Homo sapiens: one gene and its partners. The protein of the gene in region 2 interacts with the protein of the main gene of each other region in a pairwise test. Each region holds a gene or a part of one and is shown on either strand. Other genes may lie near its edges.

Region 1 (11,277 bases), on a different chromosome or scaffold from region 2:
CTTCTTCACATATAGAATACATTGCCTGAAAGGTCTAGCTGCCAACCTCTTCTTCAACTTTGACCTCCAGTCACTGCCATTTTCCTTTCAATACTCCATTCTTCACTTAGATTGACCCTTTTGTTCTGTGAAAGGACCATGTTCTCTTGAATATTGGCCTTCGTTCTTCCCTTTGTGTAGATCACCATACTTCCCCCACAATCTACCTCTCGATCTTCACCTTCTTAACTCCTACTCAGCAACTTAAATGGTTTGTTCTTCTGGAAGTTTTTCCTGGCACCCCAAGTCTAGGATTTACAGTTGACAGAACTAAGGCTCAAATAGCCTAAGTGACTTACCCACGGCTCCACAGCTTGTCAGTGGCAGAGTCAAATCTATCCTGGTTTATCAGACTCCAAATATACATTACCTAATTTGTATTACTCCTCGCAACAACTCAGCAAGCTAAGGGGATAAGTGATTAGTCCAAGATTACATAGCTAAAGTGGTGGGTTTTTTGGTAGTTTTTGTAGTCCCAAATCCAGGTACCTTCTATTACACCAAAGCAATTTCATATCATTGAAGTTGGAAGAACTTTGCCTTATGAAGTGACAGAATCAGTTATCTATTTCACTGTTGACTAAACTACAAAAGATCCTTCATCATCGCAAATTTAAAAACCAACCCCTGGGCAAACATCCCAAGGGTAAATTCCACCACTAATAAATTTAAAAATCACTGTGCTTTGCTTTCCTACTTAACTTGAACAGTGTTCGGTCCTGGCACTGCCTCTCTGTCTCTTTCCAAAAATGAGGCCTAGTGGCCTTTATCATGGGCTCCCAAGGGAATCAGGTGAGCTAACTTACTATATTCTGTTACTGGGTACCCACTGCATGGCCAGTACAATCACTTAGCAATCAGGTAAATGTGAAAGTAGAGATGTTTTAACATCTCGTTTTGACTTTAGTCTCCAGAAACCATCAAAGTGAAACATCATTTTGGAAATTCAGAAATAACAGCTTTTACAAAGACAGAAATGCAGCAGGCAAAAAGGGATATCAGATAGAACTGTGTCAAATACGGTGATGGGATGACCATTTTGTACAACTCTCTATGTAACCTGAGATGAGCAAACAAGAGGTTGCTCTCCAAAGGCACTCATCACTACTACTGTGTGTGAGAGTGTGTGCACACATGCATGTGCATGTGTGTATATTGAAGAGATTGATAGTCAAGCTAGAAACTTGACCCTCTATTGTTTCTAATATCTCACAAAGCTTTAACTTTGGTCTTATCTTCCTTTTTTCCTTCAAGAAAAGTTCTAGTCTCCATGTTGAAGAAGCAAAACCAAATATACAATAAAACCTGCAATTAATTTGTAAATCATGACCTTATTCAATTTTTAGTCTCACTCACCCACTCCCATCATCATTCTAGAGAGCCTTCCTTGACAGTCTAAAGATAAGCTGTCCGTTGTAAGATCAGCCCTAAGAATAATGCTAATATTTGACAATGATCAGTTTATGAAATAAATATGAGGGCTTGAAAAGTAAGATGACATTTTCACTAAATTCATTTTCTTCATTGGATTGTACTTTAGTAGGCACATTCTAGCAATTGTGAAGTCCCATAACCTATCCTGCACCCCTAAACACTATTGGAAGTTCATGAAAGAAAAGGTTGACTAATATTTTCAGAGAATTTATCTATAAAATCAACACCAAGTGACTCAGAGCACAAATATGCAAAGAAACCTCAGGAAAACAAGATGTATTTGGGAGCAGCCACTCTTTCTAATAAACTAACTGAAAGTATTAACAAGTTAAAAACAGTAGGATGATCAGAAAGCGGAGTTGTCAATCATGCAATGACAGAAAAAGGAATAACCAAGGCCAAAATTGGTAGCATCCAGGCAGTATGTCCAGGCCAGAGTGTGCTCTTGCTCACGAACTTTACCTACCAATATAGCAGAGTCTACTGTTCCCAGAACTGGGCCTGGGACATATTAGGTCCTCAATAATAATTTGTTAACTAAATGAGTTAATTAATGAATACGTGACTAAAAGGTCTCAATGCCATGGCCTCTGTGGACACAGATGCATTACCAAGCCATCGAATATTAGGATCATATATCTAATTCTTCCAGATCTGGCTCTTCTGACATCATTTGGCATATAAATGATGAGAGGACCCCAGTGTCCCCAATCCCACTGTAAATGGTGACACTAGCATTCTAATTTTAAATGTCAGTCTCTGACTCCAGTTCTTGTGGAGTAGTGACAAAACAGGCTTCTTAGTCAGGAGGCCTGAGTTAGACCTTGGACACTGGCAAATTCAGGAAGATAATAGTACTGGGGGTGGAGAAAGGGTTCTGGATGTCAATGAGCTTTCTCCAGGTGACATTATTTTATCTGATCATGTGTCCTTTTTATATTTCTACCACTGCACTTTCTATAAAATCAACACCAATACCCAAGAGTCCACTATGTTCCCTTATGCAACCAATTATTTTCTTGAATCTTATCTTGAAGGACAATTTTCCCTGGTTATGATCCATGCCTCTTGAGATTTCAGTTTAGTATCAAAAGGTCCTCCATGTGGCCTTCCTCAGCTATCAATGGGTTCTCTTCATTATGGTTCCAAGCATTTCTTCATCAAATTTGGAATGTTAGTACTAATAAAATAGAGCATTCTTTAGGTTGCTTTTTTAAGTGTTTGAATAGGTGAAAAGATTCACACCATTGTCTCCCTGACCTTGAGGGAACACTGTCCCACATAATTCTTCAACCATGATTAAGAAAAGAAGGGTCTACTAACTGGTTCACAATAGTCATCAAAAGCTCACTGTGTGCCAAGTTCTATGCCTTGTGAGGTCATCAGAAAATAAATAATGTGCATCGGCAATACTGAAGGCTACTGACAGATGAGTCTACTGTTTACAATTGTATATGAAGGAGAGGGGAGAGTTCTGGATTGGAAGTCCAGCTCTGCAATTATATGCTGTGTGATTGTGCACACGTCACTTAAGTTCCCTGAGCCTCCATCTTTTAACTTACAAAATGGGAAAAGATCTTTTCCCTACCTTCACTCACAAGGCTGAATGGAAGATCAAATGAACTAATGGATGTGAAAGTGCTTTGTAAATTTTAAAGTGCTATCCACAGATGACTCACTACTGCTATCATCATCATCACCACCATTATCATCATCATCACTATCATCATCATCATCATCATCATCAATCTATTATTGTTAAGCAGAGAAGGTACTATTGGATGATTGAATGCTAACTTAAGCTTCTAACTCCTCTGGACAAAGCCACTCACAGTACTGCAGCCAATGCTATTGCCTCTCTGGGTAACACCATGGTTGCTACTTACAAAGCATTCTTCCACAGAGCAAAAGGGATCACATGCTTTGACACCTGAATTGCTGGGTATCAAATCTCTCCCATTATCTTTCCAAGGAACACAATGTGTTGCAGCTGGAAAGAGACAGTTTGACTTGAAGCCAAATCAAGTCTTCTAGTTGCTGGAAGTGGCTCTTCCGTAGGTGAATTTTGTGAAGATATGGTACTGTGTTCCTTACCCACCCTCCACCCCATTTAAATGGATCTGAATTAGACTGCACATTCAACAAACTCTTCTGTCACTTTTTGTCAAAGATTTCTCTTTGAGTTCCTTGAAATATCTATTAAAAACTTAGCCTAAAGCAATATCTTTTGAATACCCAGCTCACTAATTCAGGTACTGCAGCACTGTGAGCATACACCACCAGTCTGCAAATGGATAAACTACTCAAAAGATATTTTCCACCCCTTAAATATAGTTCCAAGAAAGAATAGGAAATGCCTCATACCTCTAATGGAAGCTATTTGCTACAAAAACAAATCATTCAGGTCCGTGGAACTAGAAATGCCTTTTGCGCATAAAACTGAAAGGAAGAGACAGCAAAACAGCAGATGAAGACATGAAGTCATCACTCACAAAGCACATGATTCAAATAAAAATAAAATACTCATTGGAAAAATGGGCTACCCACACACACAACATCATGGCTGAGCCACAGCAGTTGTCAGTTTATGTATAAAAGAAAAAAACCAACATTTTGTATGAATTTCAGAGAAAATAAACTATTTGTCTCTTGTTAGTGGCTAATGTAAATATCAGAGCAAATAGCATTTTTGGTTCCAATAAAAATGTAGAACTTTTCAAAATGCTCATACATAAATCCTGACATCAAAATGTACATATCTTAAGATGTTGGAACATGAGCACCAAATGATGTGCTTAATACATTTGTTCTTTCTTGAAGAGATGAGGTATAATTGTATGCAATCATCTTGTAGCTAGGAATTTATTAAGAACTCTGAACTATAAGTACTAAATCAAACTAAATAGTCTCTTATCCTATTTTTCTCTCTCATACTTGTCATTCCTTCCTGAAGTTCTCATTACAACTACATAATTCTACCCCTTATAACCCATAGGTTTTCTTCAGAAAAGGAGGATAGCTTCCCCCACTCCTTTCCCTCAGAACAACAGTTTTCTCCCCACAAATGCTCATGGGGTGAGACCCACAGACATAATTTCAATGAACAACAATACCTTATTGGGTAAAAGAACTAGTTTATTGCTGCTTTACTTTTTGCAAATAGTTATCCTGTCTTTAAAATTTGCTATTGTTGTCCCTTGAGAAAAGACAACTTGTTCTAAGAGAAAGGTTAATGGAAAAATATGAACTACATTGTGATGTTAAATACAGATTATTTTTCCAAAGCTAAAAATCACAGTCCTCCTTCATTCAGTCCTAAAGAAGACATAACATTGCTCTCTAATGGGCTGTTCACAAATGACAATTATTGAATGAATAATAAAGGAATAATAGCAATGTGATTTCCACTTACATCAACCACAAAAATCTTCTGGGAATCATCCAAAAACTGCACTTTTAAATGTAGCATTCTCAGCGAGGCCGTTGGGCTGCAAGCAGGCTCAGAGTGCTGTGGGTGCTTTCTCCAGGAATTTCACTCCCAGCTGGATGTGGTGCACTCGGGCCCCCCCACCCCCAGCCAGGCATTCCCACTGTCAGCGGGGCACACTTCCGTTTGCTTGAAGTAATGCACACCCAAGGGCATTTGTGCTGCCAAGTGCAGGGGATCAATAGCATCTGGGCAGTCTCCTGTTTGGTCAATATCAAATCTAACTGGACTTCCTCTAGCCTTCTTAAACTCAGCTCCTTTCTTCAAAGAAAAATATAAAGAAAGCAAGCATTTGTGGTCCCTGGGGATTTTCTTTATTTCACAAGGGCACAATTTGAAAACCCTAGATCAAGCTTTAATAAACTGAGAATAGCCATTCTCAAAAGTAAAAAGATTCAAGTTAATCTCAAATTGTACTAGAAATTTCATGGCCAAGCTAGGAAGCATCTATCTATCTATCTATCTATCTATCTATCTATCTATCTATCTATCTATGCTTATATATATCTATATATAATTATATAGATATAATATATCCATATATAATTATATAGATATAATATATCCATATATAATTATATAGATATAATATATCCATATAATTGCTATTATATAGAAACATATATAATATAAAATTATGCATAATTTTAATTATCTGAATTCACATGATTTAGAAATAAAAACTATATAAAAAGGTATATAGAAAACTTCACTTCCACTCCTGTTCCCTCTTTTCTGTGTTCCCAATACACCCCTATTGGTAACCAATTTTTTTTCTTTCTATTCCCATAGAATTTATGTGCTTACATCTATAAAGAAATGAAACAAGGAATACAACTAAGGTCGAACCCCATCTCAGCTGTAAATAACATTCATGTATTCTTGGATAAATGAACTAATTAGGATAAAGAACGTTCTAATAAAACAGTCATCAAAGAATTACATTAATATCATTTTCATTATATAACAATAATTACGATGACATTTATTCTGGACTGAGATAACACTTAAGGCAAGAACTAAGAAAACTTACCTCCATTTGTATTTTTTGTTGACAAGAAGATAATGGGTGAATGATTAAAAGATGCCAAGCACAGTAGATTACATTACGATAGGATTCTTGGCTGAAAGTGGTATGAAAATATAGAAGAAGAAAAGCCAATTTAAAATGTTCAACTACTAAAGAACTAGCTCGTTTATTTTTATAAATGAATAAAGGGTGTCAAATTGTTGTGATATTTAAATTGTACCGGATATGTTTAAAATAGTGATGTAACAGTTTTTATTTTAAAATACCAATATTTATATGACACCAGCAAACACATACTTTGTCAAGTATTTAACTTCCCATGAAAAATTTTAGATGTCAACTTAGATGGGTGAGGGGACACATGATTTTTCAAAATACTTTTGGGGGTCACATGAGCAGAATACTTTGTGGACCACTGCTTTAAAACACTATTTCTCTAAGTACGGTTGAGGGACCAACTTACAGAATCACCTGGGAAGGGTGGCTGACTTTTTAAAAATGCCGATACCTGAACCCCATCCCCAAATTGGGTTGTTAGGTTTGGGGTGGACCCCAAATAGATCAATTTTCAACATGCACTCCAAGTGGCTCTCATGCAAACCATTTAAGAAGCACTACTTAAAAAATAAAAACTAGCATTTTACAGTATTATAGCCATGGCTGAAGAGGGAAACAACCTCACATACATACCTGGACTGAGGATAGAATTGAAATAAAAGCTAAACAAGAGCCGGAGCTCTCAAAATAGCAGCACCCGTGGAGGAGGCTAGAAATAGGAAAAGGTCACCAGGGAAGGAAGGCACTTTTCCTGGAATTCCTAGTACAATCAAAGAATAGAATGGGAATGGAAGGGCTTAGGCAGGCTAAGCCCACTGTGGGCTTTCCACTGTGGTTGCACTTTGGGAGAAAACAGAAGAAAGTCCTTTCCCATCTTGAACCAGCCTGAGGAAAGCCCGTGTTTAGGAGGGTCGACCGTCACACCAAAACAAAACATGCCCTAACAGAAGCTGATTGCAAAGCAGGTGACAGAGAACACTTTGGGAAGCACTGCTGGAGGCTGGCAGAGGGGTAGTTGCCATGAAAATGCCCTTGAGAGCCTCTGAGAACACTGTTGGGATGGTTGAGGCACCTGTTCCCTTTTGGTCCCACCGGTGGCCTAAAATGTGGTCTCGGAGTACTTGTCGTCTGCCTGCTCACTGGGTGGAGCTTGCCAGCATCTGTTCTTTCTTCCTAGGATCACAGAAGAACTGCAGCTTCCTGGGGAGCAGTTTCACTTCCACAGGCATCGCTTCATACTCCTCACTGTCAATGCTAAAAGAGCTCCCTGCTCCCTTGGGGACAAGCAAAGTGTACTGGCTGGCTTGGAGACACTCCATGCCCTCAGTGTCCAGCTTGGCTTTTCTCACCTTTAGGCTTCCTATAGTTATAAAGCCTCCTTTGCTGACGGTGTCGGCTTCAATGCAGATGTTCATAAAATCTTTGCATGTTCGGTCAAGCTGATTGTTCCGTGTTGTGATGGACAGTTCAATGGTGGACAACTGCACATCTTTCCAGACCTCTCGGCTCACCTCTTGGGAAAGGGCATCCTGTGGTTGTGCCCAGTAAGATGCAAGCCTCCGTAATATTCTCCTGTACAAAGAAGGCCTTCGTACAGGGGTCTCCTCTGGTTCATTGGCAGGTCTCTCTGTAGGTCCTGTATACAAGATAGAAGTTTCATGAGTCTGAGGCCACTCCTTAAGAGTGCTGAAAAAGTGGGCTGCTTTGATTTTTAGAGACCCAAGATATCAGTACCTGCTAACTTTGATGCCAGCATCTCTGAGGGATCCCCACCAAAGGCCAGTCATTGCAAACACAGGCTGTTCCTTTTCACCCTTGATCTGCAAGACGTCAAATGGAACTGTCTCTCTGTTCACAATGGCAAGTGTAGCATCAGTAATATGTTGGACTCTGTTTCCACTTTCAGTAAAGAGGTTATGATTCAAACTACTGGTCTGTCCCAGTGGGATAAATCCAATGGGAATCTTACTGAAGGTAGCCTCATCTGTTCATCGAAGAACTCCAGTAACAACCTCCTGCAGTGTCCCATCTCCTCCTGTAACAATGATCACATATGTGTTTTCTATCAGTTCCAGGAATTTCTTGGCTTGTCCCTCATAATCTGTCTTAACACTAGTCACACCTATGCTGGGATAAATGTAAAATCGGGGCAGCATTTTTTTCAAATAGAATCCTGGCTTTGCCTTTGCAAGCTGCAGGATTGAGAAAAACAGTTTCCTTCTTCACTTGTGCATTGGGAGGAATGAGTTGATTGCCAAACACCTGAGCTTCTTCACAGGCTGCTCTCCTTAGTAGGTTATCACAGTGTTTTCCATAGAGCCACTGGCCTCCCCAGGTCAGCAGGAAGAGCCCAGCTGTAGTTTTCTTCCAATGATTTTGAAGTGTTTTAAAGAACACCGTCATCTTCTAGAGATTTGCATGGCTGGTCCCACTCAATAACCACTTTTATTAGCGTTTTGTTGTAGTTGTTCAGCCTTCAGTGTTTCCTTATGCAAATTTTATACAAGCAAATACAAATATATATATATATCCTATGTAGGTAGCATACTAGTATTACACTGTTTTGTGCATTCTTTTTCCTCATTTATCATGGAGATCTGCCCTTACCTGTGCATGGAGAACTTCCTCATTTCTTTTCACAGCTGCATAATTTTGCACTGTGTAGACAAACCAAAGTTCACTCAGCCAGTCTGAAATTAATATTTCAGCCTCAACAAGACTGAAATGAATATCTTCATACATATGTCAATTTATATGTGTGCAGATATATCTGTAGGATAGATTTCCAGAAGTAGAGTTGCTGGTCAAGGATAATGAATTGGTAGTCATGATAGCTATATTTCCTTCCATAAGGGTTAGTATGGGTTGAATTGTGACCCATAAAATTCATACATTGAAGTCCTGAGCCCTAGTAACTCAGAATGTGACTGCATTAGGAGAGAGGGTCTCTAAAGAAGTAATTAAGTTGAAATGAGGTCATTAGGGTGGGTCGTAATCCAGTTTGACTGGTGTCCTTATTAAAAGAGAGTAGGACACAGACATGTAGAGAGGGAAGACAACATGAAGACACATAGAGGAGAAGATGTACATCTATGAGCCATGGAGAGAGGTGTCAGAAGAAACCAGTCCTGCCAACACCTTGATCTCAGACTTCTAGCCTGCAGAATGGTGAGAAAATAACTTTCTGTTGTTTAAGCCACCCGGTCTGTGATATTTCATATGGCAGCCCTACCAAACTAATAAAGGTTGTGCTACATTGCAGTCCCATTAGTAATATATGAGAGTGACTGTTTTCTATACAGGCTTGACAGTGGAGTATCGAACTTTTGAATGTTTACCAAACTGATAGGTGAGAAAAAAAATCTTGGTGTACTTTTCATATTATGAGAGAAGTCAAGCATCTTTTCATATGTTTAAGGGCCATTACTTTTTTTTTTTTTTGAGATGGAGTCTCGCTCTGTCTCCCAGGCTGGAGTGCAGTGGTGCGATCTTGGTTCCCTGCAGCCTCCACCTCCCGGGTTCAAGTGACTCTCCTGCCTCAGCCTCCCAAGTAGCTGGGAATACAGCCATGTGCCACCGCACTCCACTAGTTTTTTTTTTTTTTTTTTTTTTTTGTATTTTTAGCAGAGATGGGGGTTCCACCATTTTGGCCAGGCTGGTCTGGAACTCCTGACCTCACGTGATCTGCCCGCCTCAGCCTCTCAAAGTTCTGGGATTACAGGTGTGAGCCACCGTGCCTGGCCCCAGTGCCATTACATTTATATTAATTTCTTTTTTGTGTGGATTTCTTTTATTGTGAAAGATGTGTTCATTTACTTCGACATTCCATTTTATTTTTCTTATTTAAAAGATTTTGTATAGCCCAGCATGAGCGACGCAGAAGACGGATGATTTCTGCATTTCCATCTGAGGTACCGGGTTCATCTCACTAGGGAGTGCCAGACAGTGGGCGCAGGTCAGTGGGTGTGTGCACCGTGTGCGAGCCGAAGCAGGGCGAGGCATTGCCTCACTCGGGAAGCACAAGGGATCAGGGAGTTCCCTTTCCTAGTCAAAGAAAGTGGTGACAGACGGCACCTGGAAAATCAGGTCACTCCCACCCGAATACTGCGCTTTTCTGACTGGCTTAAAAAACTGCACACCAGGAGATTATATCCTGCACCTGGCTCAGAGGGTCCTACGCCCACGGAGTCTCGCTGATTGCTAGCACAGCAGTCTGAGATCAAACTGCAAGGCGGCAGCGAGGCTGGGGGAGGGGCGCCCGCCATTGCCCAGGCTTGATTAGGTAAACAAAGCAGCCGGGAAGCTCCAACTGGGTGGAGCCCACCACAGCTCAAGGAGGCCTGCCTGCCTCTGTAGGCTCCACCTCTGGGGGCAGGGCACAGACAAACAAAAAGACAGCAGTAACCTCTGCAGACTTAAATGTCCCTGTATGACAGCTTTGAAGAGAGCAGTGGTTCTCCCAGCACACAGCTGCAGATCTGAGATCGGGCAGACTGCCTCCTCAAGTGGGTCCTTGACCCCCGAGCAGCCTAACTGGGAGGCACCCCCCACCAGGGGCACACTGACACCTCACACAGCAGGGTACTCCAACAGACCTGCAGCTGAGGGTCCTGTCTGTTAGAAGGAAAACTAACAAACAGAAAGGACATCCACACCAAAAACCCATCTGTACATCACCATCATCAAAGACCAAAAGTAGATAAAACCACAAAGATGGAGAAAAAACAGAGCAGAAAAACTGGAAACTCTAAAAAGCAGAGCGCCTCTCCTCCTCCAAAGGAACACAGTTCCTCACTAGCAACGGAACAAAGCTGGATGGAGAATGACTTTGACGAGCTGAGAGAAGAAGGCTTCAGATGATCACATTACTCCAAGCTACAGGAGGACATTCAAACCAAAGGCAAAGAAGTTGAAAACTTTGAAAAAAATTTAGAAGAATGTATAACTAGAATAACCAATACAGAGAAGTGCTTAAAGGAGCTGATGGAGCTGAAAACCAAGGCTCGAGAACTACGTGAAGAATGCAGAAGCCTCAGGAGCCGATGCAATGAACTGGAAGAAAGGGTATCAGCGATGAAAGATGAAATGAATGAAATGAAGCGAGAAGGGAAGTTTAGAGAAAAAAGAATAAAAAGAAACGAGCAAAGCCTCCAAGAAATATGGGACTATGTGAAAAGACCAAATCTACGCCTGATTGGTGTAGCTGAAAGCGACGGGGAGAATGGAAAAC
Region 2 (10,497 bases):
CTTTTTCCTCTTTTTGGAAAAGTCTGAAGGGACAAACTGAGAAAGAAAATGCTACCTGGGGATTTAGGCCACATCAAAATCAGTCTGCGACACTAACTGTGTAAATTCTCACCCTCAATACTAAAATAACTCTATGTAGGAACTTTCAAATGCAGTATCAATTGTTCACCCTTTACAGATCTAAGTATTTACTGTTAGGCTTTTTAAGGTATACAGCCCTATCCTCACAAAGTGAAAAGACAAAAATCAGTACAGCAAGCTTTTTGCTTATTTCCCTGTTTTTGTCATCTCATTAAATAAAAGGTGGGGAGGGAACAAGAGAAAAAAAACAAGAGCCCTGATATGGTTTGGCTGTGTCCCTACCCAAATTTCATCTTGAATTCCCACGTGTTGTGGGAGGGATCTGGTGGGAGGTAACTGAATTATGGGGGCAGGTCTTTCCCGTGCTGTTCTCATAATAATGAGTAAGTTTCACTAGATCTGATGGTTATATAAGGGGGAGTTTTCCTGCAAAAGCTCTTTTTGCTTGCTGCCTTCCATGTAAGATGTGATTTGCTCCTCGTCTTCCACCACGATTGTGAGGTTTCCCCAGCCATATGGAACTGTAAGTCCAATGAAACCTCTTTCTTTTGCTAATTGCCCAGTCTTGAGTATGTCTTTATCAGCAGTGTGAAAACAGACTAATACAAGCCCCACGGAAAGAGTTGTCTTGGCCAGGCACAGTGGCTCACGCCTGTAATCCCAGCACTTTGGGAGGCCAAGGTGGGTGGATCACCTGAGGTCAGGAGTTTGAGACCAGCCTGGCCAACATGGCAAAACCCCATGGCGAAATCTCTAACAAAAATACAAAAAAATTACCCGGGCATGGTGGCAGGCGCTTATAATCCCAGCTACTCGGGAGGCTGAGGCAGGAGAATGGCTTGAACCAGGAAGGTGGAGGCCAAGGCAGGCAGATCACCTGAGGTCAGGAGTTAGAGACCAGCCTGGCCAACATGGTGAAACCCCGCCTCTACTAAAAATACAAAAATTAGCCAGGCATGGTGGCACATGCCTGTAATCCCAACTACTCAGGAGGCTGAGGCAGAAGAATCTCTTAAACCCAGGAGGTGGAGGTTGAAGTAAGCCAAGATCATGCCACTGCACTCCAGCCTGGGCAACAGAGTGAGACTCCGTCTTAAATAAATAAATAAATAAATAAGACAGAATCATGGCCGGGTGCAGTGGCTCACGCCTGTAATCCCAATACTTTGGGAGGCTGAGGCGGGCGGATCACCTGAGGTCAGGAGTTCGAGACCAGCCTGGCCAACATGGTGAAACCCCGTCTCTACAAAAATACAAAAATTAGCTGGGCACGATAGTAGTGGGTAATCCCTGCTACTCAGGAGGCTGAGGTGGGAGAATCACTTGAACCTGGGAGGCAGAGGTTGCAGTAAGCCGAGGTCACGTTATTGTACTCCGGCCTGGACGACAGAGCAAGACTCTGTCTCAAACACACACACACACACACACACACACACACACAATCAGTGTATATACACACACAAAAGGACACAAGACTGAAAGGATATGCAACAGAAAATTAATAGTAAATGCATCTCAGAATTATATTTATTTTTTTCTACCTCTTCTTTGCCTGTGCATACTTTAAGCCAACATGGTGGAACCTTGTCTCTACTAAAAATACAAAAATTAGCTGGGAGCGGTGGCAGGCGCCAGTACCCCAGCTATTCAGGAGGCTGAGGCAGGAGAATCGCTTGAACCCAGGAGGCGGAGGTTGTAGTGAGCCAAGATCGTGCCATTGCACTCCAGCCTCGGCAACAAGAGCGAAACTCCATCTTAAGAAAAAAAGAAGGGTGTGATAGTTAAATTTATGCATCAACTTGGCTAGGCAATGGTGTCCAGATAGTTGGTCAAACATTATTCTAGATGTTTCTGTGGAGGTTATTTTTTAGATGAGATTAGCCTTGTAAACTGGTGAAAATTGGGTGAAGGAGATTACCCTGCATAGTGTGGTGGGTCTCATTTAATCAGCTGGAGGCCTCAATAGGAAAAAGACTCACCTCCCCTGAGCAAGAAGAAATTCTGCCAGCAGAACTTCTGAGGCAGCAGAATGCAACATAAACTCTTCTCTGGGTCTCCAGTCTGCCGGCTTACCATGCAGATTTTGGACTTGCCAGCCTTCAGTCACGTGGGCCAATTTCTTAAAATCTCTCTCTTGCTTTGGTGGGTGTGTGTATACCTGAAGAGATGCCTGAATTGACAGCCCTCAGAGATAACCTATCGTGGACTTCTAGCCTCCAAAACTATGAGACAATAAAATTCTATTGTTTGAGCCACCCAGCCTGTATGACACTTTGTTATAATAGCCCTAGCAAACTAATACACAGATGCAACAGTAAATTAATAGTGGATATCTCTCAGTTAGAATTACACTTGTTTCTTTTTCACTTCTACTTTCTTGCGCACATTAAAAAAATTTTTTTGACTATGAACAAAGACTTTTTTGGTAATGAGGAAAAAAAATCACTAAAAACAAATGACATAAGCATTCCTATACTATGTAATTCTGTATCTGCTTCCTATACTATAGAGAGTCAATTCTTTCTCTTAGTTATTAAAAGAACTTCTATTGACTATCCATAACTTATTGCCCAAGTGCTCATCTGACTGTTCACACTGCAAAAGGACACTCACCTTCATAATCTCTTATTGAATCTTCTGTCCTGACCCCAGCCATATTATACTGGCTGCTCACAGACTGAGAAAGCATTCCTTCTAATCTCTCCAGTGTGGCTTGGCCTTCTGCTGTTAGATGGGATAATCCTTCTTCATAGGTGTAAAATGTAGGGATGTCCCCCTGTCCTTGTTCTAAACAAACAGAAAACTTTAAAGTTTAAATACAACAATTAGAAAAAACAAAATGGAATCAATAATATATCTGCCGCCAGCCTGGCCAACATGGTGAAACCCTATCTCTACTAAAAATACAAAAATTAGCCAGGCGTGGTGGCACGCGCCTGTTGTCCCAGCTACTCAGGAGGCTGAGGCAGGAGAATCGCTTGAACCACAGAGGTGGAGGTTGCAGTGAACCGAGATCACGCCATTGTACTCCAGCCTGGGCAACCGAGCAAGACCTTGTCTTGGAAAAAAAAAAAAAAAAAAGAATCTGCTGAAGATAATATACTGTCCAAATAGGCTTCCAGGAAGATACTTTTGAACATTTATTTATACACACATATAGGCTACTGCTGAAGACAGAAATACAAAGAAGATGTACCTACTCTCTAGGGTTATTAAAAGAGATAACAAGCCAGTAAACAGCAATTCCCAAAGAATCCCAAGTCCAGGGACTAGAAAAAAAAAGTGTGTTCCTAAGGTCAGAGAGTCCTACATTATCCTGAGGTGGGAATTTTACAAGTGAGCACAAATTAATTTGGTATTAATTTGTAAAATGAAGATGTTTTCTGATTAAAAAACATGCTCCTTTCTTAAAAAAAATCAGGGCCAGGTGCAGTGGCTGACGTTTGTAATCCCAGCACTTTGAGAGGCCGAGCTGGGAGGACTGCTTGAGCCCAGGAGTTCAAGATCAGCCTGGACAACATAGTAAGACTTCATCTCTCCAAAAAAATGTTTTTTTTAATTAGCCGGGCACGTGGTGTGCACCTGTAGTCTCAGCTAATCGGGAGACTGGGGTGGGACAGCTTTGGTCCAGTAGTTCAAGGCTGCAGTGGGTGGAGAATGGTACCACTGTATTCCAGCCTGGGCAACAGAGTTAGACCCTGTTTAAAAAAAAAAAAAAAATTAGAAATTCTGGAACATACAAAAAGGATGAAAAATTTTAAATCACTCAAAAATCTCAGAAAGATAAGGATATATTTGGATATATTTAGGTATGTGATGGCGGATCCCAGAAATGTGTTTATCTCAGGCCAGGAAGTGGGTACATATGAAGGAAAGGGCTTTGGATACCCAGATTGGTGTACATAAGACCAGTAGGGAAAAGAAAAGAGAACAGCAGGTACTTCAAGCTATAAAGACTCTTATCACGCTAGTGACTGCATTCTGGTCTGGGGGAGGCAATCGGAAAGGGCTCTTAAATAAATGAAGTATGGTTCTGAGAAAAAGAAATGACCTTGGCAGTGAGCTGTTTGAAGGAACATGTTAAATAAAGATGCAGGCCAGGCCCGGTGGCTCATGCCTGTAACCCAGCATTCTGGGAGGCCAAGGCCAGAGGATTGCTTGGGCCCAGGAGTTGGAGACCAGCTTGGGCAATATGGCAAAGCCCAGTCTTTATAAAAAATACACAAAAATTAGCCAGGCATGGTGGCGCAAGCCTGTAGTCCCAGGTACTCAAGAGGCTGAGCTGGGAGAATCATTTGAGTCCAGCAGGCAGAGGTTGCAGTGAGCAGAAATCACACCACTGCACACCAGCCTGGGCATCAGAGTGAGACCCTGTTGCAAAATAATAATAGTAATAATAAAACAATATAAATGATCCAGGTTCTCAAGGTGTAGAGAGAGAAGCTTGTTCTCTGGGGGCAGCTGCCTCAGCTTAAAAGACTTTCCTGACCATCCACTTCCCTATCTACCATTTTCTTTCCTCCCATATGCTCTACTTACCCATTCTTCCCCATAACAATCTCTATTTCTTACACTCAAAAATTTGTCTGTTGCAAAGGGCTTTGGCATAAAGTGTTCTACCGTGTCATTCTATTTTAATAATAATCTTACCAGCCAGGCACAGTGGCTCACACCTGTAATCCCAGCACTTTGGGAGGCCGAGGCAGGCGGATCACCTGAGGTCGGGAGTTCAAGACCAGCCTGACCAACATGGAGAAACCCCATCTCTACTAAAAATACAAAATTAGCCTGGCGTGGTGGCGCATGCCTGTAATCCCAGCTACTTGGAAGGCTGAGGCAGGAGAATCGCTTGAACCTAGGAGGCAGAGGTTGCAGTGAGCCGAGACCACGCCATTGCACTCCAGCCTGGGCAACAAAAGCGAAAACTCCATCTCAAAAATAATAATAATAATTTTACCATACTGCATACTTTACAGTCATATAAAGAACTATAATCCTCTACCCTTAATACAAATAAATGCTTAAAATGAAACACTAAACAAACAAAAAACCCACTTTAAAATCCATTTCACTAACCATGTGCTTCCACATCATATTCTTCTCCATCGTAGTCATCTGAATCCTCATCCTCAGGATCTGGATGCAAGGCCTGGCATTCGCACATTGCAGTGAACATTGCCTCCACTGAACAAGGAAATTAAACTGTAACCAATCTTTTTTTGTAATAAAAGTAACCATCAGTGCAAATAAATTTAATGGGTACACAAAACGCCACAGTATTTACAAAATCTGCCAAATTGTAAGATCAATCTTGAAAGCGGTTGAAGCAAAAGACAAGTCATAAAATAATAAGAGTTCATTATGAGAGATCATTGCAATCTCTTCATGGCTCGTGGGATTTTCCAAGAAAAAAGGGTCAGAGTCCTGGTAAGACTGCTGGCATCAGGGTGAAGGGTGAAGACTGCTCTCAGCTGATAGGGCTCTTTCCAGCCATCCTGAGATCTTCCACTTTAAAACTGCCATAACTCCTCTGCCATCCAGCAGGTGAGATTAAGTCAACAGCACCAATCAGTAAAACTAACCAGAGTCCACTCACAAAATATACCCAGATGACAGAGTGTCTACAATATTCTCACTACATTCACAACCTTTGATATTAATAGGTATTTGGTCCTTAATGATATTACCAATGCTAAAATAAAGAAAAAGCAATAGAATGGAGGTAATGGTGGTAAAGGTGAGAGGTGTGTGTGTGTGTGTATGTGTGTGTGTGTCAATTGGGAATGCTTGGTATGTAAAAGGGGAAGAATCAATACTGTAGAACACTCACACGCTGATTTATCACTAGGCACAAATCTAAATTCAGTAATAGGTTCAACATCATCATCACTGTCTTCCTCTTCTTCATCAGCAACAGGTTCTTTTGATTCTTCTAGAAAATAAAATACCCTTTTAATGTCATTATTTGACTTTAAAAAAATGAAGCATATTGAAAATCTGAATATTGCAATTCAATTTTAATTTCCAATTATGGTTGACAAATTTATTTCCAATTATGGTTGAAAAATTCTGATTATACAGTGAGCATCCTAGAAAAGCCTTGCCTCGATCTCCTGACCTCGAGATCCACGCACCTTGGCCTCCCAAAGTGCTCCCTCCGCGCCTCACCGGGAATGAATTTTTAAGGTTATTTTTAAGGTAATCTAATCTCATCAACAATGAGCTAAGGGTCAACTTTTTTTTCTGAGACTGGGACTTGTTTTGTTGCCCAGACTGGACACCCTTGCCCTCTCAGGCCCAAGCGATCCTCCCACCTCAGCCTACTAAGCAGCTGGGACTACAGGCACTTGCCACCACACCCTGCTAATTTTTGTTTTTTTGAGATGGGGTCTTACGATGTTGCCCAGGCTGGTCTGAAACTCCTGGGCTCAAGTGATCCTCCTGTCTTGGCCATTCAAAATGCTGGGATTGTGGCTGGGCACGGTGGCTCACGCCTGTAATCCCAGCACTTTGGGAGGCCGAGGTGGGCGGATCACGAGGTCAGGAGTTTGAGTCCAGCCTGGCCAATATGGTGAAACCCCGTCTCTACTAAAAATACAAAAATTAGCAAGGCGTGGTGGCAGGCGCCTATAATCCCAGCTACTCAGGAGGTTGAGGCAGGAGAATCATTTGAACCTGGGAGGTGGAGGTTGCAGTGAGCCAAGATCACAGCATCGCACTCCAGCCTAGGTGACAGGGTGAGACTCCATCACAAAAAAAAAAAATGCTGGGGTTACAGATGTGAGCCACTATGCCCGGTCCTGATGGTCATTTTTTTTTTTTTGAGACGGAGTCTTGCTCTGTCGCCCAGGCTGGACTGCAGTGGTGCCATCTCGGCTCACTGCAAGCTCTGCCTCTTGGGTTCACCCCATTCTCCTGCCTCAGCCTCCTGAGTAGCTGGGACTACAGGCGCCCGCCACCACACCTGGCTAATTTTTTTGTATTTTTTTTAGTAAAGACGGGGTTTCACCGTGTTAGCCAGAATGGTCTTGATCTCCTGACCTCGTGATCCGCCCGCCTCAGCCTCCCAAAGTGCTGGGATTACAGGTGTGAGCCACCGCGCCCAGCCCTGATGGTCATTTTTAAAGAGACTTACAGAGGTATGCCAAAGAGAAAAAAAAAAAACTTAGAGCTTAGAGAATCAGAATGCAAGGAACAAAGGCTGGGAAAATATGATTCAAGCACATGTAATTTATGAGAGGAGTTTAAGATAAAAAGAACTAAAGGGCCAAGCGAGGTGGCTAACGCCTGTAATCCCAGCCCTTTGGGAGGCTGAGGTGGGTGGATCATGAGGTCAGGAGATGGAGAGCATCCTGGCCAACACAGTGAAACCCCAACTCTACTAAAATACAAAAAAAAAAAAATTAGCGGGGCGTGGTGGCGGGAGCCTGTAGTCCCAGCTACTCGGGAGGCTGAGGCAGAAGAATCGCTTGAACCCAGGAGGCAGAGGTTGCAGTGAGTCAAGATCGCATCACTGCACTCCAGCCTGGCGACAGAGCAAGACTCCATCTCAAAAAAAAAGAAAAAAAAAAAAGGAACTGGAGAATTAGTGAAATAAATGTGACCCAGAAAGATACTAATTTCTAGTAAGATAGGAAATCCTGCATATCTTACTAAGAAAGGATTAATCATAATCACATCAATTACAACCAATCATATAGATTCTGTATGATTATAGAGCACATATTTAAAACACACACCCTAAAACCTACTGAACTGCTTTTTCCTAGTTTAGGACTCAGAGCATTTGCATTTTAAACAAGCTTCCCATGTATTTCTAATGTGTATCCATTAGTCTTGAGTTTGGGAACAAGAGACTAATATACTCCCTTAACTTTTTGGATGAAATTCAGGCTCAGAGAAATGCAAATGACTTGCCTAGCAAGTTAATGACAGAGTTCTTACTTTTTTTTCTTTTCTTCGACCGTTTTGCTCTGTTGCCCAGGCTGGAGTGCAGTGGCGCGATCTCAGCTCACTGCAACCTCCACCTCCCGGGTTCAAGTGATTCTCATGTCTCAGCCTCCCGAGTAGCTGGGATTACAGGCACCCGCCACCACGCCCAGCTAATTTTTGTATTTTTAGTAGAGACAGGGTTTCACCATGTTGGCCAGGATGGTCTCGATCTCTTGACCTTGTGATCTGCCCCCCTTGGCCTCCCAAAGTGTTGGGATTACAGGTTTGAGCCACTGTGCCCGGCCTAATGACAGAGTTTTCTTATTCAATGTGCTTTTGCCCTTAGGCTAGTATTTATTAAATGCTATTTCCTAAGCCTTTCTCTTGGCATGTACCTTTCCCACCTCCAATGGCCGTCACTATTTGGGGCCATTTCACACCAGCATCTGGAGTTGACTGACAAGAGCAAGGTTTCGCATTTCTGCAAATGAATGAATGCTTTAAACTAAACATGACACATAATATTCTTGGTTATAAAATCATAGTTGCATTTACTTAGATGGAGAGTAAATTTTGTGCCAAATGCCTTATTAGGAAGTCTTACTACACTACTACACCCCAAGGTTAACAGCCTTTTACTTTTCCTCATCCTCTTTTTCAAACTTCACTAGATTTTTAAATGTCTTTGAACCTTTTCCAATGGCAAGAATTTGAAATCTTATAACAAAAATATTTTCAGATAGCTGAATCAGTCATTACCACTTAATGAGGCAGGTCTTGCCAAAAGTCCTAAGAATTACTAAATAGTTTCACACCTGAATATAAATGATCATATTATATCTGGAACCATATTAAAATCTAAATTTGAAAGAGCAATAGCCTTGTAGGTAACTTCATAGGATTGTCTCTTACACACTACTTCAAAGAAAAGCAACCCGTTATTTTAAACATGAGCATCTTCACTAGACTTTTACAAGTCTTTGCAATTATCCCAAAGCAAAACTTGAGAATCTTTATATCCTACAGTTTCTCAACCTTGGCACTACTGACATTTGGATGGAATAATTCTTTGTTGTGGGGGACCATCTGTGCATAGCAGAATATTTAGTATAATAATAGCATCCTTGGCATCTAACTGCTAGACACCAATAATACCCTTCCTCTTTCAACCAAAATGTCACTGCCAAATGTGGGGGAATGGTGAGGTTGGTGGAGGCCCATGGAAAATATATCCCCCCTACAACCACTGAGACCCACTACTGAAACAAAACAAAACAGTTCTATCTTAAATTATGAGAAGCACAGGGTATACTGATCCAAGCCCCTAAGGGTGCCTTTTAAAAAGAGAAAGGCAGAATAAACAGTGAAACTTTAGAGGAAAAGCTAGAAATACATATCCATAATAAATGAAGAATTCTAAGTGTAAATATAGAGAAATATATACAGACACACATGAACATCCATTGTGAAAACTTCAAGTGTCCAAGTTGCTGTGCTGAAATTTTGCTTAATAAACTACTACCCAAAATGAGTCAATGGCCTCAATGTTACATTGATTATTATCAAAGACTCTTTTTTTTCTTTTTTTTTTTTTAGACGGAGTCTCACTTTGTCGCCCAGGCTGGAGTGCAGTGGCATGATCTCGGCTCACTACAAGCTCCACCTCCCAGGTTCACACCATTCTCCTGCCTCAGTCTCCTGAGTAGCTGGGACTACAGGCGCCCACCACCACGCCTGGCTAATTTTTTGTATTTTTTAGTAGAGACGGGTTTTCACCGTATTAGCCAGGATGGTCTCGATCTCCTGACCTTGTGATCCGCCCGCCTCGGCCTCCCAGAGTGCTGGGATTACAGGCGTGAGCCACCGTGCCCGGCCTCAAAGACTCTTTTTTAAAATATAATTTGCTATCAAAGGAGGCATTAGATTAAATTACACCATACATACCTTCAAATTTGGCATTCACCATAACATACAAATGCTCTCCTAGACAGTCACTTCGGTCCCTGGATAATGCATGTAAACTAATGGTGGGGTATTCCAGTGAGAATCCTAATCCAGAGCCATCTAACCAAGACAGGCGGCTGAAAAACATGTTTTAAGTAGATTATTTTTAGAAAGTAAATCCTCATGTAAGACCACAAAGTATATAAAAGTTCAGCTTGGACACCTTTATGCATATAAATAAATTCAAGTTTACTTTTTTAGAAACGTTCATAAAATAAGAAAATTCAGTAGTGGAAACTGAGTTTTCTTTAAGATCAATTCTGTTACGGTCTCTTTCCCTCTAGCTATAAATTCAAACAGACTTGAAATTCCATTTTCCTCAGTCACATGTATGTTTCTATGACTTTCATGCTTACTCTTTTTTGGTATGTCTTCAAATACCCTCTTTGCTTTTGCAAATCCTCCCCTCTTCCATGAGGCCTCCCTTCAACTACACCAGTCCATAAAGATCTCTTCCTTTTCTGATTTGCAAATTTTAGC
Region 3 (10,497 bases), on a different chromosome or scaffold from region 2:
TGTTGCCCGGGCTGGTTTTGAACTCCCGGGCTCAAGTGATTCCCCCGCCTCAAGTGATTCCCCCGCCTCAGCCTTCCAACGTGCTGGGATTACAGGTATGAGCCACTGCACCTGGCCTGAGGTTTCTTCTTATTTCTACACCCATCATGAAATAAAATAAAATGTCACTTTCCGATTTCTTCTTTCATCTTTGGTGATCAACAAACTTTCAGGTGGCTACATAGTTTAAGCAGAAAATATGATTTATAAAATTCCTGTTCTTCAATTTGTCAGTTTACATATGTAATACACATATACTAGTTTAGAAATTGTGTTACAATTCAAAGCAAAATTCTACCTTCCTTCCATCTCATATTCCCCATCTCCATCCTACACATCACATTCTTCATTTTTGGTGCAATATATCCTGTAGCATGCTATGAGCAACTGTCAGTTACCGTGACTACTTAAATTACTGAATCAACTGTCCAGAGTGACATTTAATTGTGGCTGTGGAAATCATTAGACTCTATCATTTTCAGACCAAATGTCCCAAAGAAAATGAGGTATGCCTCAACTCCCTACAATCTCTTTCAGAAAAATGAATAAAGTAAAATTCTAGATAGCCAACAGACACTACCTGTTGAAGTGGCTCCTTCAGTGGTGCTAGGAATAATTTTCTTAATGTTTCTTAACCTAGAAAGTCAAACCATTCCCAAATTTGGGTTCTTTTACTCCTATTTATAGGAAGAAAATACCCTAACTTAAAGACTGAGATTTAGTCAGAAAGTCCTGGCTCCTCCATTTACTAGCTAAACAAGCTGAGTAGATTCAATTAACTTTTCTGAACATTAGTTTGCTCAGCTGTGAAATGATAAGAATATTTACACTCATCCTACCTCTTTATTGGAATTGTTTAACAATAATCAAATATGTGAATGTCTTCTGAGAAATATATATGAAAATACTTCAAAAAATTAGAATCATTTTTTGGGCAAACATATATGACATGTCCTCCTCTCAATGAGATGAGTTATTTTTAATGACTATTAATAATTCACATAAATGTTCATTCATTGTCAGTCTTAACTCATCCATATCAAATAATTTTCTTTTTTTCTCCCATGTTTTCATTCTAAATGACAGAAGATGATTTGAAAATGCTTCATGTATTTTCCCTAATCCCTTATTCATAATTCTAAAATCCAAATGGCAAATTTTGACTTGAACTGTAAAGAGACTATTTATAATCTTAATTTATCCACCTCAGAATGAATCTTCATATCTTTTACCATAGAAATACTATGTCTGATCATGTGGGTGCTGCTACAGACACTGCTGGGTTTATTATAAAATATGCAGAATATGTACTTATTCCCTTGCTAAACTCCAAAATATTCTGAATTCTAGTTTTTATTTTGTTTTGTTTTGAGACGGAGTCTCACTCTGTCGCCAGGCTGGAGTGCAGTGGTGTGATCTCAGCTCACTGCAACCTCTACCTCCTGGGTTCAAGCGATTCTCCTGCCTCAGCCTCCCAAGCAGCTGGGACTACAGGTGCGTGCCACCACACCCAGCTAATTTTTGTATTTTTAGTAGAGACGGGGTTTCACCATGTTGGTCAGTATGGTCTCGATTTCTTGACCTCGTGATCCACCTGCCTCGGCCTCCCAAAGTGCTGGGATTACAGGCATGAGCCACCGTGCCCGGCCTCAAAATATTCTGAATTCTATGACACATCTGTCCCCAAGGGCTTCATATATAAGAGATCCATATCTGGATCTTGGTCTGAATGGGAAGAATAGGTGTAAAATAGCTTTCCCCATCTCTAAATTAGTTAGTGCAAGAAGCAGAAAAAGCAGACCCTAAGGCTCTAGTTAGGTGTATAGTACCTGTTTCAAAGTACAATTACATCTTTCTTGATTTCCTTTTTAAACTTAGAGAATACCTATTAGTAAATATAGCATAATATTTTAGATGATTTGTGATTGAACATATTTACATTTGCAAATAAATAATGTGATTAAGAAATAAGGCTGGGTGCGGTGACTCATGCCTATAATCTTAGTACTTTGGGAGGCTGAGGCAGGCAGATCGCTTGAGCCGGGGAGCTCAAGAGTAACCTGGGCAACATGGTGAGAACCTGTCTCTACAAAAAATATAAAAAATTAGCCAGGTGTGATGGTATGTGCCTGTAGTCCCAGCTACTCAGGAGGCTGAGGTGGGAGGATCACCTGAGCCCAGGAGGTTGAGGCTGCAGTGAGCTGTCACTGCGCCACTGCACTTCAACCTGGGCAACAGAGCAAGACCCTGTCTCAAATAAATAAATAAATAAATAAATAAATAAATAAATAAATAAAATAGTTTGTTCCACATATATGTGAATTACACACTTTGTCAATAAAAGCTGTTACTAGTAACAATTGCAATTGCTTATATATCAAGCATATCATAATAAACAACTACTGTTCCAGTTTGAAAAATATATAGTTAGTAGATTTTTTTAAAATTTCAACTTGCTCTGGCCGGGCGCGGTGGCTCAAGCCTGTAAACCCAGCACTTTGGGAGGCCGAGGCGGGCAGATCACGAGGTCAGGAGATCGAGACCAGCCTGGCTAACACGGTGAAACCCCGTCTCTACTTAAAACACAAAAAACTAGCCAGGCGTGGTGGCGGGTGCCTGTAGTCCCAGCTACTCTGGAGGCTGAGGCAGGAGAATGGCGTGAACCCAGGAGGCAGAGCTTGCAGTGAGCCGAGATTGTACCACTGCACTCCAGCCTGGACGACAGAGAGAGACTCTGTCTCAAAAAACAAACAAACAAAAAAAAAATTGTCAACTTGTCCTGAAGGAGCAAAAAGAGTAACTGAATAACTCTGATATTTTTCTTCAATCCTGATTCAATCACTTATTCTTTCAGAAAACAGAAAATTTTAAGAAATGGCATTTACTGGACTTAAAGACTTACTCATCATCTTCCCATAATCCCACCTCCAGAAAATCACCATTAATACTTCCATCTACAGAAATAATCATTAAAGGCCGGGCGCAGTGGCTCATGCCTGTAATCCCAGCAATTTGGGAGGCCGAGGTGGGCAGATCACTTGAGGCCCGGACTTCAAGACCAGCCTGACCAATATGGTGAAATCTGTCTCTACTAAAAATACAAAAAATTAGCCTGGCATGGTGGCACATGGCTGTAATCCCAGCTACTCGGGAGGCTGAGACAGGAGAATCACTTGAACATGGGAGTTGGGGGCTACAGTGAGCCAAGATCATGCCACTGCACTCCAGCCTGGGTGACAGAGCAAAACTCTGTCTCAAAAAAAAAAAAAAAAAGAAAAAAGAAATAATCACTACAGTGAGTCTTATCGTGGGCAAAATCACCACTTACGCAACTCTAGATGAAACCACCTGTAAGAGTTCTGATTGTTGGAAATGAAAACATACTCACCTCCACAACACATTCATAAACTGTGTCATCCAACAAAGAAACCTTGCAGTGCATGTTCCTGTGTTTTCTGATTGGTTTTTGGGAAGCTTTTAATTCTGTTTCTGCTTTTGATTGAGGGCTTTCTTCTTTTACTTCTATTTTGGAGCACTCTTCAAGTCCTTCTCCTTCCTTAATTTCAAAATCTGGATCTTCTCTGAGTTCTTCCTGAGCAGGCTACATATCCATGACATCGCCAAGTCAGTAATAAACACATTTCACAAAACATGCTGTATATGCTTTTACCTATAATAATCTTACCAATAAAAGCATGAACTAAAACAAATATAGGTGACATTAATATTAAATATTTTTCTATAAAAAATAGTATGATCCCCCAAATGCCCTAAAGACTTTGTTATTAAAACTTCTCAGGTAGAATCCCATCAAATCAATAAATGAAGGTCTCAGGTAAACCGGAGGATACCAATCCATTGCTCTCAGCATTATATATTCTTCCTGACCAAGCCATTACACGGTATTATTAAAGTTTAACAAAAACGTTATTGTCTCTGCCCATGCTCCTCAATTTTAGCAATGTAGCCTTACAAACTGCAAAATAAGATGTGACTTGTTACATATTCTAAATTTTAAATTAATTTTAATTCTAAGAGAAATGCTTGGGACCAATTTCACATCATTAAGCAAACATGTAGTAGGCTAAAAATTTTAACTACCAGCTAACACCTTTCTACCCAATATTAATCATGTTAAATGCAAAGAAGAGTCAATGAAGGAAGAGTTTCCTGGTGCAATCTTAAATTATCCCCAAATAATACCGATAAGTAGGATAACATTTTTGGTATACATTTTTTTTTGAGACGGAGTCTCACTCTGTAGCCCAGGCTGGAGTGCAGTGGCGCGATCTCGGCTTACTCCAAGCTCCGCCTCCAGGGTTCAAGCGATTCTCCTGCCTGGGCCTCCTGAATAGCTGGGACTACAGGCGCCCGCCACCACGCCCAGCTAATTTTTTTGTACTTTTAGTAGAGATGGGGTTTCACCACGTTAGCCAGGATGGTTTTGATCTCCTGACCTCATGATCTGCCCGCCTCGGCCTCCCAAAGTGTTGGGATTACAGGCGTGAGCAACCGTGCCTGGCCGGCATACATTTTTACTTTTACTTTCAACACAACAAAACTACCGACATATTTTTATCTAAACCCGACTAATTATTTTCTTTTAAAAGAATATGTTACTTCCTTGTGTAACAGCTGGAAAACAATTAAAAGAAAAAAAGAATGCATGGTTGACAATTAGGAAAAAGAAATTAATTATTTGACTCCTGCATTAAATACTGGAAGTAATCTAAAAGACTCCTTCCGATCTTTCATGACCCTCTCACTGCAACCTCAGGAAGTCTCTTCACTGGCTATCCTATCTATCTATGCCCGCTCTACTGTCTTTCATATCAGTACTCTGGTGGCTTTATAACTTATTACAATAAATAATTATTTTTATTTGCTACTTTTTTGTCTTCTCTATTAAAGTCCACAAGGGTAGAAATCATGTCTGTTTTATAATAATAATAATACCAAACATTTATACAACAATTACAATGGGCCAGTCACTATTCTAAGAAAATTACTTATGTGAACTAACTCAATCCTCATAACTACCCTGCGAGGCACGTAGTATTATTATATCCCCACTTGATAGAGGGAGGATAATAGTACCTGGCCTGCAGGGTTGTAAAACAGGCCAGAGAAATTAAGTAACTTGCCTAGGATCATACAATTAATAAGTCACATACCAGTCTGGCTTCAGAATCCACGATTTGTTTTTTTTGCTTTTTTTTTTTTTTTTTGAGACAAGAGTCTCACTCTATCACCCAGGCTGGAGTGCAGTGACATAATCATGGCTCAATGCAGCCTCGACCTCTCAGACTCAAGTGATCCTCCCACCTCAACATCCCAAGTAGCTGGGACTACAGGAGAGCCACCATGCCTAGCTAGTTTTTTACTTTTTTGTAGAGATGGTGTTTCTCCATGTTGCCCAGGTTGGTCTCGAACTCCGGGGCTCTAGTGATCCTCCTGCCTCAGTCTCCCAGAGTGCTGGATTTACAGGCATGAGCCACCACACTCAGCCCCAAAATCCATGATTTTAAACCTCTTCACCATATTGCAGTTTTTATTTACCAAGGTATATCCAGCCTAGGGCCTGGCACACATGGTAGGTTTTCAATAAATATTTGTTGAATGAATAAACAAACATTAAAAATTTACATAGGCTTCCAAAAAATCCAAGCTACTCTGGATGAAGACTGGTACAATCCTATATTTATATATATTATACACTTAAATGTAATATAAATATATATTTATATATTTATAATATAAAGCAAACACGCTTTTTAAAAAATTCTGGATAAAAAAGAACCATTTAAATAAAATCCTATTACATATACAGAAACATGGTTAGGCAAATAAACCTTTATCCAGACGACTCTGATCCACAAGGTTTTGACTATAAATATTAGTTTCCAAAAGGCCTAAAATAGTTTGTTCTTTTAAATAATATCTCCTTGAAATTTTACTAACAATATCGTTTCTTTTTCTCCACATGAAGACAAATAACCTACGGACAATTTATTTCAATTCGGAATTAAATCTTAATGAATGAGATTTTAGTTAAATCTAAAATTAACTGTCCATCATCTGTGTCAACTTGAGTACGAATCTATGAACTTTAGACAATGCAGACAAGTTCTGATTCAAATGTTAACTAAAACAAGATATGGATTTTCCCCTATATAAAGCTGAAGGAGAAAAAAGCAGTTAAAAACCCCTTGAGGCCAGGCACAGTGGTCATGCCTGTAATCCCAGCATTCTGGAAGGCTGAGGCAGAAGGATTGCTCGAGTTCAGGAGTTCAAGACCAGCCTAGGCAACAAAGCAAGACCGTCTCTACCAAAAAATTTAAAAATTAGCTGGGCATGTGGCATGCACCTGTAGTCCCAACTACTCAGGAGACTGAGATGGGAGGATAGCTTGAGCCCGGGAGGTTGAGGCTGTAGTGAGCCATGATCACACCACTGTATTCTAGTCTGGGTGACAGAGAGAGACCCTGTCAAGAAAGAAAGAAAAAAAGAAAATAAATAAAGAGGGGGAAGGAGGGAGGGAGGGGAAAGGAGGGAGGCAGAGGAAGAGAGGAAGGGAGGGAGGGAGGGAGGGAGGGAAGGAAGGAAGGAAGGAAGGAAGGAAGGAAGGAAGGAAATTTGAAAAACTCTTGAAAGTACCAGGCTTCCTGAAAGATAATGTAATTTTTTTTTTTTTTTTTTGAGATGGAATCTCGCACTGTCACCCAGGCTGGAGTGCAGTGGCGTGATCTCGGCTCTCAGCAAATTTTCCTGCCTCGCCTTCCGAGTAGCTGGGACTACAGGTGCCCGCCACCACGCCCAGCTAATTTTTTGTATTTTTTGTAGAGACAGGGTTTCACCATGTTGGCCAGGATGGTCTCAAACTCCTGACCTTGTGATTCGCCTGCCTCAGCCTCCTAGAGTGCTAGGATTACAGGTGTGAGCCACTGCGCCCGGCCGATAATGTAATTTAATTCTTTTGGTATTCCTAAAATAAAATGTTATTAAGATATGAATGGTTTCTTTGCCTTTACTGTTTGTGTTTATTTACTAGCTAACATTCATTGAGTATTTATTAAATGCCAGGCAATGTTTTAAGAGCTTTTACCGGTTTCACTCTTTTAATCCTTTCAATCCCAAATGAGGTGGATATTATTATCCCCATTGTACAGAGGAGGAAACTGATAAAGTGAAAAGTGTCACTTTTCTTCGATTTGAACCCTCTAGTCGGATTCTATAGCTTGCATCTTAACTATTACAGAACATAGTAAATCTTGTTTTCAACCTTGTTTCACTAACAGCAAGTGTGCAATTATAATTTTATCCTAAATTTTACCCTCAGCACTTTGAATATACAAGTAATAGTTCTAGAAATACATGTAATATTCTAATAAGACTCTAATAAAACTATGGAGTCCAAATCTCAGACCTATAATAGAAACATGTAGGACTTTTACTTTTTTCCCCCCAACACTGTCAGAGTTCTAGAAGGACTTACACTTTTAACGATGCAGATAATATTCACATGCTTCAGAAATAAGAAGACTCTGAAAATAATTCTTAATTGTAATGGTGAGGCTGAAAATAAATGACATTCTCAGAAAATAGTCTGAGTTACAGTACTAATGTTTTCCCATTTTTTGGGACAAATAAACTCACAACTCGTGTTTAGTTTAACAACACTATGTCACAATTAAGGCCCCAGACTAATATACATTACACAGGTGATAGAAAGAGCTAGACTTCCTCATCTGTATCTTACACTCTGTGGCAATATGCTCTAGTTAAAGAAGATGATCAAAATAAGGTAGACATGACTTGAATCTATCACATACCTTCAAAGGGCTTGAATTCATCACACAGCTTTTAGGAAGATTTACGTAAAAGAACCACATCTGCTGATAACCGTCCTGTTCCTAATAATTCCACAAAAATGAACTCTAAACCATCTCATCTTTCTTTTCCTCTCTCATGAGAAATCTTCAATTTGTTCCATTATTATAATAAAATGATATATGGGCTGAACACATTGATTTGATACTTTTTTTTTCTCTACTATTCTTTGATTTATAAACAGTAAATGGACAGGCATGGTGGTACACACCTGTAATGCCAGCTGCTCAGGAGGCTGAGGTGGGAGGATCACTTGAGCCCAGGAGTTTGAGATTAGCCTGGGCAAAATAGCAAGACCCTTTAATACATATAAAGTGTAAGTAACTGTTTAAAAAGTAAGTTTCCAATGACTACATTAATTTTTTTAGAGTAGAAACTATAAGCCGGGCATGGTGGCTCACGTCTGTAGTCCCAGCACTTTGGGAGGCTGAGGTGGACAGATTACCTGAGGTCAAGAGTTTGTGACCAGCCTGGCCAACACAGCAAAACGCTGTCTCTACTAAAAATACAAAAATTAGCTGGGCATGGTGGCCAGCGCCTGTAATCCCAGCTACTCGGGAGGCTGAGGCAGAAGAATAGCTTGAACCCAGGACGGGGAGGTTGCAGTGGGCCGAGATCACACCACTGCACTCCAGCCTGGGTGACAGAGCAAGACTCAGTCTCAAAAAAAAAATAGAGTAGAAACTATAAAGCTTTATGATGCTACTTATCACTATCAATGCCTAAGTCAACTAGCTAGTAAGAAATAAAACCAAGTACTTTTTTTATCCCCCCGTTGTTGAGACGGAATCTCATCCTTGTTGCCTAGGCTGGAATGCAGTGGCACGATCTCAGCTCACTGCAGCCTCCGCCTCCCGAGTTCAACTTCTCCTGTCTCAGCCTCCTGAGTAGCTGGGATTACAGGCACCCGCCATCAGGCCCGGCTAATTTTTGTACTTTTAGTAGAGACAGGGTTTGGCCATGTTGGCCAGGCTGGTCTCGAACTCCTGACCTCAGTTGATCCGCCTGCCTCGGCCTCCCAAAGTGGTGGAATTACAGGCATGAGCCACCGCGCCCAGCCCAAATACTCTTAAATGAAAAATAAAGTGTATAACCTGCCTTCCTTTGCCCACCTCCCATATCCACACATCCTTACCTGTGTTTCTGCACTGCTTAATGAATGAAGATCCAAAGATGGGTCTGTTTTGAGTTCCGGTTCAGGAGCTGCAATTGGGGCCTTTAAAATGATCTCTTCATCAAGACTGGTTCCAAATTCTATCTCTTTCTGACCTCCTTCACCTTTTTCTTTATCTGACTCTACTTCTTTGCCTTCTTCCTCGGACACCTGAGATTTGGGCCTTTTGAGAAACGAGGAGAATAGTCGTGAAAGTCCTCTGCTTTCTGATGTCCGCTCCTTGTTCTTGGTCAAGTCTTCATGTGTAGGAGTGTCTCCATTAGAAGCTTTCAGCTTCTGTTCACACCAATTATCTCCTTCAGCTGCTGTTTGACAAGATTCCTCCTGCTGAGGTTCTTGTTGGCCTGAGTTTATGGCTTCCTCACCCTCTTCCTTCTGTTGGTGCTGTGAATTTTCGGCCTCAGTCACTAAACTCTTCTCTGTTGTCATGATGTTGCTATTAAAAAGAAGATAGAAAAGGGGGGCTCTTATAAGCAAAACACATTACTGTTGGCAAAACCCTAAACCCTAAAAAATTAATATACTTAGGTATTTAATTGCCAACAAACAGAATTCAAACCCATTAAACATGAGACTTTCCATTAAATTACAAAAATATCTTATCTACACATCCTGAATAAAATATTAATGCCTTGAGTCACTAAAGATATGCACACAGAGAGAGTAGCTTAAAATAGTACCCACGGAGGCCACCTTAGTGAAATACATCACATATTAAATCCAATGCCTAGAACTGTATACAGTAAATACAGTTTTATCCTTCCTTAAAAAAGGACTGTGGTTTAGTGTCCTTTGAGGGTATCAATCTGAAGGTGTAGGATTTGCAGGAATTATTCCCTGCAAAATTCTCCACACACCAAGAGACGATGAAATTTAAAAGTTCCCCCAGTCTTTATTGTTCTTTTTCTTTACATTTCTTAGGATGCAGAGACTTCTCTATTAAAATTGCAAAAGTAAAATTCTGATAGTTTGTTGTAAGACTGGATAACAGCAACGACAAATATACAGTTGAAATACTGCAAAAAATTTCCTTAGGTTTTCATGTTACAATTCCAAATTACAACCTCTTTCAGAGGTATCCCTTTTTTTTTTCCTTTTTGTGGAGAATGGGGTCTTGCTATATTGCCCAGGCAGGTCTCGAACTCCTGGGCTCAAGCTATCCTCCCGCCTCTGCCTCCCTAAGAGCTGGGATTACAGGCGTGAACTACCGCACCCGGCCAGAGGTATCCCATTTTAAGCTCTTTCAGTCTCTTTTTTCTCCTGATAAACATGATTTTGAAAGCTCAGAATTTTTAAGAGTAGGAAGTGAAACTAACAATAGAGAAAGGAGATAGAGAAGAAAAACTTATAAAGCAAGTGTTGATTCACTCGTAGGGGAGGAGGAAAGAGCAGGC

The links.
Region 1: the proteins of CLNS1A (region 2) and FRMD7 interact in binary tests that used the Homo sapiens proteins (3 or more experiments, as listed by UniProt).
Region 3: the proteins of CLNS1A (region 2) and EPB41 interact in binary tests that used the Homo sapiens proteins (3 or more experiments, as listed by UniProt).

The regions. Positions count from the first base shown.
Region 1 is NC_000023.11:132,122,903-132,134,179, forward strand, and holds the start of FRMD7 (FERM domain-containing protein 7), read right to left. Parts: upstream 5,119-11,277; 5' UTR 4,943-5,118; coding exon 4,886-4,942; intron 1-4,885. UniProt on the Homo sapiens protein: Plays a role in neurite development, may be through the activation of the GTPase RAC1. Plays a role in the control of eye movement and gaze stability.
Region 2 is NC_000011.10:77,619,806-77,630,302, forward strand, and holds part of CLNS1A (methylosome subunit pICln), read right to left. Parts: intron 10,095-10,497; coding exon 9,958-10,094; intron 6,014-9,957; coding exon 5,912-6,013; intron 5,266-5,911; coding exon 5,158-5,265; intron 2,869-5,157; coding exon 2,695-2,868; intron 1-2,694. UniProt on the Homo sapiens protein: Involved in both the assembly of spliceosomal snRNPs and the methylation of Sm proteins.
Region 3 is NC_000001.11:28,986,473-28,996,969, reverse strand, and holds part of EPB41 (protein 4.1), read right to left. Parts: intron 9,540-10,497; 5' UTR 9,533-9,539; coding exon 9,065-9,532; intron 7,615-9,064; exon of another isoform or gene 7,535-7,614; intron 3,641-7,534; coding exon 3,428-3,640; intron 1-3,427. UniProt on the Homo sapiens protein: Protein 4.1 is a major structural element of the erythrocyte membrane skeleton. It plays a key role in regulating membrane physical properties of mechanical stability and deformability by stabilizing spectrin-actin interaction. Recruits DLG1 to membranes.